Regions from separate parts of the Homo sapiens genome. Here region 1 is linked to region 2. The links come from fine-mapping of genetic effects on gene expression. A gene starts in region 2. The other region holds a variant in brackets. All regions are shown on one strand. Distances are between the middles of the regions. Region 1 overlaps UBE2K (ubiquitin conjugating enzyme E2 K). Region 2 holds the start of UBE2K (ubiquitin conjugating enzyme E2 K).

What was found. PIP is the estimated chance that this variant, and not a neighbour inherited with it, causes the effect.
Region 1: its variant is fine-mapped to the expression of UBE2K in whole blood (INTERVAL, PIP above 0.99).

Annotation. Positions count from the first base shown.
Region 1 is chr4:39,758,763-39,764,145 of GRCh38, forward strand. All of the region lies in intron 4 of UBE2K (ubiquitin conjugating enzyme E2 K), which reads left to right. It also overlaps the pseudogene RN7SL558P. Among named protein-coding and RNA genes, the nearest start is that of UBE2K, 63 kb to the left of the region's middle. The variant A/G (reference allele first, on the strand shown) is at 2,777.
Region 2 is chr4:39,695,565-39,700,947 of GRCh38, forward strand. It overlaps UBE2K (ubiquitin conjugating enzyme E2 K), which reads left to right and starts at 2,572. Exons shown (of 7, transcript NM_005339.5): 1 at 2,572-2,826. The coding sequence starts at 2,764. RefSeq lists an enhancer at 2,126-2,185 and a silencer at 2,266-2,555.

The sequences.
Region 1 (5,383 bases), 63 kb after region 2:
TACTATTACTTGTAATTATCTTCCTATATAGCTAGTTGAAAGATTATGGTGTGTATATATAGAGAGAGAAGTTGAATTTTTATACCAAAACATTTTCTCCTAATATGATGTGCAGGAACAAAACATTTTTTACATCAACTATTCCCTTTTCCTAAGGCAGGTGAATAATCTTGTTTTTTATCTGTACAATTGAAATATTAGAATATACCAAAGACACATTAGATAAAATAGGTGAGACTAGATATTCATGAAGTCATTACTTTATTCCCAGAGCTTTACTGAGGTATAATTGACATTTAGTGCATATCCATATTTAAATGTGGATGTTTAGGTTTCAGAACTGGAATTTGATAGAGAAAAATACAGAGTCTTAATCATAGGAAAAATGAATTACATAAATAATTTTCAGCAGGCATACTAGAAAATAATTGGTTAATCTTGGTCTTTTATTAATGCATCTAGGGGTGATGATATACCTTTATTAATATTTAACTTATTTTAGTATATTTGTTTATTATTATTATTTTTTTTTGAGGCAAAGTCTCGCTCTGTCACCCAGGCTGGAGTGCAATGGTGCCATCTCTGCTCACTGCAACCTCCGCCTCCCGGGCTCAAGCAGTTCTCCTGCCTCGGCCTCCTAAGTATCTGGGATTACATTACAGGCATGTGCCACCACGCCCAGCTAATTTTTTTCTATTTTTAGTAGAGACAGGGTTCCACCGTGTTGGCCAGGCTGGTCTCAAACTCCTGACCTCAGGTGATCCACTGGCCTCGGCCTCCCAGAGTGCTGCAATGACAGGCGTGAGCCACTGTGCCCGGCCCCTGGTTTATTTCTTAATTCCACAACTTGTGCTGTGTGGAAACTATTTTCTAATGTTTTCCACTGACACTTACTATGACTAATGGTGTCTACTTACCTGGGGAAGAAAATGGCAACACATAAAAATTTCACTCAGTGACGCTGCCCTTCTAAAAGACACAAACAGGCACAGAATATCTGCCTGGTCGATAAGGTATGCTCAGCATCATTACTCATCAGGGAAATGCAAATGAAAATCACAATAAGATAACTACTACATGCCTGTAAACACAAATACCTCATGCATTGCTGGTAAGAATGTGGCTTAACCAGGCAGGGCACGGTGGCTCATGCCTGTTATCCCAACACTTTGGGAGGCCAAGGTAGGTGGATTGCTTGAGGTCAGGAGTTCAAGACCAGCCTGGCCAACATGGTGAAACCCCATCTCTACTAAAAATACAAAAATTAGCCAGGCGTGGGTGGTGGGCACCTGTAATCCCAGCTACTCGTGGGGCTGAGACAGGAGAATCTCTTGAACCTGGGAGGCAGAGGTTGCAGTGAGCCGACATCGCGCCACTGCACTCCAGCCTGGGTGACAGAGCGAGACTCTGTCACAAAAAAAAAAAAAAAACAGAAAAAAAAAAAAAAACAAATAATGTGGTTTAACCACTTAAAGCCAGTAATATCTACCAAAGCTAAACATACACCTTCAGTATGCCCTATCAGCTTCATTCCTAGGTATATATCTAAAAGAAATTAGTGTCTATGCCTACTTTTTAAAAGACATGTATAAAAGAATATTTATGGCAGATTTATTAATAGCCCCAACGGGAAATAACTTAGATGTCTCATCAACAAGAAAATTGATACATTGTGATCACACACTGGAGCACTACATAAACAGTAAAAAAGAGCCTATCATTGACACAAACAACATGGATGAGACTCAGTCATGTTGAGTGACAAAAGCCAGACACAAAAGAATACATACTGTATGGTTCAATTTTTATGAAATTGAAGATGAACCAGAATTTATGGTGATAAAAAATACGATAGCCCAGCGCAGTGGCTCACGCCTGTAATCCCAGCACTTTGGGAGGCCGAGGCGGGCGGATCATGAGGTCAGGAGATTGAGACCATCCTGGCTAACACGGTGAAACCCCGTCTCTACTAAAAATACAAAAAATTAGCTACAGCGAGACTCCGTCTCAAAAAATAAAAATTAAAATTAAAAAAAATTAAAACAAATAAAAAAATACGATAGTGGTGAGGGTGGGCAGGAGTTGTGAGTAGGAGGAGCAGAAGTGAGGCTTTGTAATGCTAAAAATACTCTATTTTTATCCAGGCGGTGGTTACATGGATATATACAGATATAAAAATTCATCCAGCTGCATGGTATCTTAACTTTGCTTAAACTTTAACAAAAAAATTTATAGCAGCTGGGTACAATGGTGCACACCTGTAGTCCCAGCTACTCAGGAGGCTGAGGCAAGAGGATTGCTTAAGACCAGCAAGTCTGGGCTGAAGTGTGCTATGCCAGTCAGGTGTCCACATTAAGTTGGGCATAAGTATGGTGACCTCTTAGGAACAGAGGACCACCAGATTGCCTAAGGAGACGTGAACCAGACAAGGTTGGAAACAGAGCAGGTCAAAACTCCTGTGCTAGTCAATAGTGAGATAACACCTGTGAATAGCCACTGCATCCCAGCCTTGACAACATAGTGAAACCCAATCTCTTTAAAAAATAAAATCTTTAGTATAAAAGCTGCCATCCTCTTTAAGTAGCATTTAGTGTTTTGAATGAACGTGGTTTAATTATTGATGATCTGTTGGAAGATCCTTAACAGAAAAGTTAGTCAACGGTATGAACAATTCACATGATTATTCTACATAGTAAGGCCTGAGTCCTTATGAATGAATATATGAATATTTACATAGCCACATTAACTATGTCTTACTGATTTGAGACTTGAGCAA[A/G]ATTTATTTACCGGACATAGATTTATGAGGTACTGATTTATTCATATTATCTTCTAAATTATAAAGATTGACACATTTTGAAATTTCATATTCCTGTTTGCCTGTTAGGATTTGTTATAATAGATTTAAGTTGATTGTATATACTGATCCTAAAGATATCAGTACAATATAGATTTGATCACTACTTTGTAAATAGAAGAAGAAATGGAACAAAAGCATGTTTTCAGTTATATACTTTTTCACATTACTGAATTTAGATTAGAGCAGTCCAAAATTGCACACATTTCTTTATATTATCGAAGATACAGTTTCTATAGTATTCATTTTTTTTTTTTAAAGTTTTAGGCCGGTTGCTGGCCGGATGTGGTGGCTGATGCCTATAATCCCAGCAGTTTGGGAGGCCGAGGTGGGTGGATCACGAGGTTGGGAGTTCAAGACCAGCCTGGGCAAGATGGTGAAACCCCGTCTCCACTAAAAATAAAAATAAAAAATTAGCCGGGCGTAGTGGCATGCGCCTGTAATCCTAGCTACTCTGGAGGCTGAGGCAGAGAATCGCTTAAACCTGGAGGGGCAGAGGTTGCAGTGAGCCGAGATCGCCTCACTGCACTGCAGCCTGGGCTACAGAGCGAGACTCCCATCTCAGTAAAATAATAATAATAATAATAATAATAAATCTTGAAATTTATTTTATTTATTTACTTATTGTAGAGATGGGGTCTTGCTATGTTGCCCAAGCTGGTCTCAAGCACCTGGCCTCAAGTGATCCTTCCACCTTGGCCTCCTGAAGTGCTAAGATTACAGACTTGACCCCCTACTCCTGGTCTATAGTATTTAGGGTTAGAAAAATAGGTGTGGTAGGCTGTTTTTGCATTGCCATAAAGGAATACCTGAAACTGAGTAATTTATAAGGAAAAGAGGTTCCATTTGGCTTCTGATTCTTCAGGCTGTATAGGAAGTGTGGTGCCAACATCAGCTCAATTTCTGGTGAGGCCTCAGGGAGCTTATGATCACAGCAGAAGATGAAAGAGGAGCCTGTTTCACATCATGAGGGTAGAAAATAGAGTGGAAGCAACAGAGAGCAGGGAAGTTGCCACATACTTTTAAAACACTTTGTTTGAGACAGTCTCACACTGTTGAGCAGGCTGGTGTGCAATGGCACAATCTTGGCTCACTGCAGCCTCCGCCTGCTGGGTTCAAGCGATTCTCCTGCCTCATCCTCCTGAGTAGCTGGGACTACAGGTGCGTGCTATCACGCCTGGCTAGTTTTTGTATTTTTAGTGAGATGGTGTTTCACTGTGTTGGCCAGGCTGGTCTCGAACTCCTGACCTCATGATCTGCCCTCGGCCTCCTAAAGTGTTGGGATTACAGGCGTGAGCCACGCACCCGGCCAAAAAACACTTTTTTTTTTTTTTTTTTTTTTTTTTTGGAGACTGTCGCCCAAGCTGGAGTACAATGGTGCAATCTTGGCTCACTGCAACCTCCACCTCCCGGGTTTAAGCACTTCTCGTGCCCTCATGCCTCAGCCTCCTGAGTAGCTGGGATTACAGGCACGTGCCACCATGCCCAGCTAATATTTGTGTTTTTAATACAGATAGACTTTTGCCATGTTGGCCAGGCTGGTCTGGAATTCCTGGGCTCAAGTGATCCACCCGCCTTGGCCTCCCAAATTGCTGGGGTTAAAGGCATGAGCCACTGCATCCAGCCTTAAAACACTTTTTTTTTTTTTCTTTGAGACAGAGTTTCGCTCTTGTTACCCGGGCTGGAGTGCAATGTCACGATGTTGGCTCACTGCAACCTCCACCTCCCGGGTGCAAGTGATTCTCCTGCCTCAGCCTCCCAAGTAGCTGGGATTACAGGCATGTGCCACCACACCCAGCTAATTTTGTAATTTTAGTAGAGACGGGGTTTCTCCATGTTGGTCAGGCTGGTCTCGAACTCCCAACCTCGGATCATCTGTGCACCTGACCTCCCAAAGTGCTGGGATTACAGGCATGAGCCACCACGCCCAGCCAAAACACTTAAAACAACCAGCTCTCACATGAACTCAGTCATCACCAATGGGGTGGCACTAAGCCATTCATGAGCGATTTGCCCCCAGGATCCAAACACCTCTCCCCAGGCTCCACCGCCAACACTGGGAATTACATTGCAGCATGAGATTTGGAGAGGACAAATATCCAAACTATATCAATAGGTTTTGTTTGGATATTTATTTTTATTTTTATTTTTTGAGACAGAATCTCACTCTGCCACCCAGACTAGAGTGCTGTGGCTCACTGCAGCCTCAACCTTCCAGGCTCAATTGGTCTTCCCACCTCAGCCTTCTGAGTAACTGTAACTACAGTCACGTGCTACCACACTTGGCTAATTTTTTGTAGAGACAGAGTTTCACCTCATTGCCCAGGCTGGTCTTAAACTCCTGGGCTCAAGCGATCTACCTGCTTCAGCCTCCCAAAGTGCTGAGACTGCAGGCGTGAGCCATCGTGCCTGACCTCAATTATTGAACTAATTTTCTTACAATTAATTATTAAAACTGGCTGTGTGCAGTGACTCAAACCTGTAATCCTAGCATTTGGGAGGCCAAGGCAGGAGGATTGCTTGAGCCCA
Region 2 (5,383 bases):
TCTCGAATTCCTGAGCTCAAGCGATCCGCCCGCCTCGGCCTCCCAAAGTGCTGGGATTACAGACATAAATCAGGGCGCCCGGCCTGGACCCTTCTAACTGGTCCCCCTTTGAGTATTCCAAGTTTCTTCACATTCCAAGATTAGGATTGGACAGTGATAATGTAAAGTGCTCAAAAAGTTTTTGCACTCTTCAAAATAATTTTTTTAAGTCTACTGGCACAAATACATATAGCATTGCGTGATTTACATTACACCAATAATTCCTTGTACCATGACCTACGTATATGGTTGAGTCCTCTTAGGACCACTAGGGGGCTCTGCTAGAAGGGTTTATATAATTTATGTCAGCCCACTTAGGGGAAATGTTTTGAGATGATATTTTCGAATTCTGAACTCTTAAAACTTGAGAGAGATAATCTAATCCAGTTTTCTCGTTTCGTAGATGAGGAAATAAAAGCTGGCAAGAGAACTGCCATGGGAGAGAACTGGAATTTTAAAATCTCCTCTTGGTTCCTGGGGCGGGAGTTTAAGAAATTCTCTTTTGCCTTGTGCCCCCACTGATTCGCCTCCATTGGCTATTTCCATGTTTGCCACCACAATTTTAATTACTTTTGGTAAAACCATGTATTTGTGATATTTTTATAATAGATATTTTACTGATTGGCTAGGTGAAGAAAGTGCATGAAGTATAAACTTCTGAAATGACACCCTTATTACTTATTCCAAAATGTTCTATTCAAAATGCTTCTCAGTACCAAACCATTATTACTATGCACCTTAGAAACCACTTTCTTTTTTAAAAATTATTATCTTTAGAGACAGGATTTCACCATAGGGCCCAGGTTGGTCTCAAACTCCTGGGCTCAAGTGATCTGCTCCCCCTCGGCCTTCCAAAGTGCTGGGATTACAGGCGTGAGCCACCGCGCCCGACCAGAAACCACTTTCTTTTGTTTGTTTGTTTTTTGTTTTTTTTTGAGACGGAGTCTCGCTCCGTTGCCCAGACTGGAGTGCAGTGGCGCAATCTCGCTCGCTGCAAGCTCCGCCTCCCGGGTTCACGCCATTCTCCTGCCTCAGCCTCCCGAGTAGCTGGGACTACAGGCGCCCGCCACCACGCCCAGCTATTTTTTTTATATTTTTTTAGTAGAGACGGGGTTTCACCGTGTTAGCCAGGATGGTCTTGATCTCCTGACCTCGTGATCCGCCCGCCTCCGCCTCCCAAAGTGCTGGGATTACAGGCGTGAGCCACCGCACCTGGCCCAGAAACCACTTTCAAACTTACTTTCCACTTAAAATATTTTATACTTTTTGTTTTGTTTTGTTTTGTTTGAGACAGAATCTTGCACTGTGGCCCAGGCTGGAGTGCAGTGGCGCGATCTCGCTCACTGCAACCTCCGACCCCCAGGTTCAAGCGATGTTCCTGCCTCAGCCTCCAGAATAGCTGGGATTACAGGTGCCTGCCACCACACCTGGCTGATTTTTGTATTTTTAGTAGAGATGGGGTTTCACCATGTTGGCCAGACTGGTCTCGGACTCCTGACCTCAAGCGATCCGCCGCGCCAGCAAAAACGTTTTAGTCTTATCTGTACTCATTTACTCATTCAATATTTATTGAGTGCCTACTATCACCAGGCACCTTTGAGGCCTAGGTTTACAGAAATAAGGCTCCCCCTCCCCCACCCCGAGTCCCCTGAAGGGTACTGTAATTGTTTCCATTTCTCCAATTTTCACTTTAATATATGTGAATTTTCACATGCTTCATTCAGTTCAGTGGTTCTCATAATGTGGTCCCGGAACCAGCACCAACAGCAGCAGCAACTGGGAGACTTGTTAGAAGCGCAGTCTTAGGCCCACCCTACACTCTAGGGATGGGCATAGGAGTGTGTGTGTGTGTGTGTGTGTGTGTGTGTGAGAGAGAGAGAGAGAGAGAGAGAGAGATTGTGTGTGTGTGTCAAGCTCGGTATTAAATAGGTCAAAGAGCAACATCTGGCTTCTAAACCCACCCTCAGGCCTCTCCACCGAGTACCTGTCTCAAACCCAATCTGATCCAACAATAACCAGCCTTAATTCAATAATCTGTGCTACCTGAGATGATGGGAATAATCGTGGTACTATAAATGTTGCAGAACAAAAACGACTGCAGTAGATTTTCTGGGGCTACACCAACTGAAAATGGGCCGGACCGAGATCCGGGAGAGCGTTTTCCTGCGCTAGACACGGCGTTCAGCCTCCGGGTTCCGGGTCTAGCTGAGTCAGGGCGGCGTTCCAGCCGAGTGCGGCGTCGGAAACCCGTTCGGTTGCGCCCGAACCTTCGGTCAGAGGCCAGCGCTGGAAGCCCAGACCACAGCACCCGGGTTTAAACAGGAGCGGAGGCGCCGGGAAGGGCCGGGGGGGCCGGCTAGGGCCGGCCAGCTTGGAAGCCGCACCCTCGCGGCCCCAGACGCCGGCAGGGCGGAGCCACGCGGCCGCAGCCCCAGCCGAGACGCGAGCTCGTGGCTCGGGCGTATGGGGGCTCCAACGGGAGCGGCTGCGCCGCCCGGCCGGGTCAACGTCGTGCGCATGCGCCGACCCGGCGCCATTTTGGTGGCCGGGCGCGGAGGTGATTCCACACTGAGGCGAGCGCGGCGGCCGGGGTGGTAGTGGCAGTGTTCGTGTGCTCAGGTCTGAATCGCCGAGGGAGGAGGCGGTGGAGGAAGAGGTGGCGGCGGTGGCGGTGGTCGTAGCGGTGGCGGAGGAGGCGGGTACGAATCAGCTGCGGGCGGAGACATGGCCAACATCGCGGTGCAGCGAATCAAGCGGGAGTTCAAGGAGGTGCTGAAGAGCGAGGAGGTCAGAAATGAACTCCCGGATATCCCCCACCTCTGCCTGGGGCGGGAGGGTCCTCCCAGCTGCGACCCCGATATCCCCGGTAGTCCCTGGGTGGTCCTCCTTGCGGCCGCCCTTCTGCCTGTGAGGAAGCAGCAGTGTTCCCCTCCTCCTTCCGCCGCCTTCCCCTCCCCTCCCAGAGCGCTAGGATGGACGGTCTCGCGGGCGGGTGGTCTGGGGTGGAACATGGTTTGGGGAGGTGATGGACAGGGGGCAACTCCTCGGAGGGATGGAAGCTCACAAGAGAACCCGAGGCGGTGGCCGCAGCTGGAAATGTGGCTGTGGGGTGGGGAGGGAGCAGGCCGAGCCTGAGAAAACCCGGGAAGTGGGTTGGGGGAAGGGGAAAGGTGGTAACTGGATCCCAAGAGCAGTGCTGCTCGAAGGCCCACACTTTTGAGGGTATTCGGGGTTATTGCCTGTCAGGCCTTCACTGTTCTTTTCTTGGGGAAGGAGCAGTGAGTCCTTAGGTATTGATTAAAAAGGAAGGACATTCAGAGTTAGTCCTTCTTAGTTGGGTGTTAGGAGTCAAAGGGAGACATAATAGAATACTGTCTTATTTGGTGGCAGGGGTAAGGGAATTTTCACCTGAGTTAGCAAGTTAATTCCAAATAAGATAATTATCTCTTTTCCACTTAACCCCCAAATTCCTAGGCCTCATCTTTATTGACATCTCAATCTTTTGAGTGGGCAAAGGCAAGGTGTTTGGTGTATTAAAGACATGTAAATATTTTTAGTTAGGAAACAAATAATGGAATGTATGAGTAGCTTATTTCAAAATATTGTTTACAAGTTACAGATCAGAGAGACTGTCTTAAGACAGTGCCTCTGTGACTCGTGTTGTGCCACGAAACTTCATTATGATGTCCCTCATAGTTAACTTGATTCTTACTTTTGAAAAGCAGACCTATTAAAAATGTGAAATTTCACCAGATTAATACATTGTTTCATCTCCTTATTGAGATTTATCACGACTTAACAGATTTTCAAAAAAGTTGCCTCCCGTTGCTCTTAAGTCCTGCAGAATTTAGATACATTTGTACTACGTTTATTTATGTAAGATATTCACAGTGCTCTAGTAATTTGACTCAAAATTATGCAAGTATTAGTACAGTTTCTCATACCAAGATCAACAAGAATGCCAGATTGTCTTCCCCACATGAATTAAACAAAAAGTAATACAGAAAATGATTATTTTCAAGATTCACATACCATTATTGAATATATCATTGCTATTTGTGTTTTTCTTTTACAGTTAGTACTTTAATAGTGTCAATAATAATTTGTGAAATTCAGCATTCTAAGTATGTGATGAGTATACATGGAGAAAAAATTATTTAAAATTCAAAAATGACAACAGACTTATTGAAAGTAGTATATAAGTCATGGTCGGTTTTACAGAGCATGTGTATGAACTCTGACCTCTATGTTTGTTCATATGCCAAAACTCTGAATGGAAGGATGACTTTGTATTTTGTGGTACAATGCAGAAATAGAGTCATAAGTGTCTGTACTGATACAATGAAACAGCAATTTTAACTTATTTAATATGAAAATGTATTCCAGGTTAGTTGACATATATACTCCTAATGAAAGCAGTTGTTGTTGCCAACAACTGAAAACATTTCTTGTTTAATAAGGTTGTACAAGCCTGAAACTTAATAGACTTTTAATGCTTTATTTTCTGTTACTTACGGTAACAGAAACAGTAAGTTACTGCTCTGGTAATTAATGTGGTCTCTTTGCTTTTTATGAGCTGACTTTTCACCGTGGTATTCTTAGTACTAAGTTGAAGATTACCAGAAATACTTGTATTGCTCTCTAGTAATGCATATTAAAAAAACACTGCTCTTTATACGTAAGGGATGTTGAAGCCTTACTTCAGATAAGCATCAAAAGTGTTTCAGAAGAAGAAAACAGGAAATGCAAACAGACAGGTTTTTTGTTGTTTTTGTTGTTTGTTTGTTTTGTTTTGTTTTGTTTAGAACAGTACCTGTATAAATATGGAAGGAAACTTCTGGGAAAATAAGTTGGAAAGAACATTTAGGAAAGGGTCACATCATTTAATCTTGGAATAAATATAACCAATAAATAGCTTATTTTCACCAGTATTTTTTGATATTTTAGTAGCCCCAGTTCTATAAGTGTATTGTTATTTTCAACTCATTGAAGACTTGTAGTATAGTCCATGTGTTTCCTTTTTAAGGGTGTAAATACAGTCTTTTGAATGGCTGATCAAATAAATGTTTCATCATGTCACTTTTTTGGTAAATCAGCACTTTACCGAAGTTTATTTCATGTGTTTGTATGCTTGTGTTTACTAAGAACACTGGTTGATTTAAGGACTTTTTGGGGTGGCCTTATAAGAGCCTTTGTAAAGATAGCTGACGCTTACTGGATTCTGGTTATGAGAGATTATAAGTGGCCGTTCTTAGAGTGTGTTAAAATACAGCCAACAAGATAAATGTGAAAAAGCAAGGTGCAGAATAGTGTGGAAGAGGCCATTTGTGTCAAAAAGAAGGGC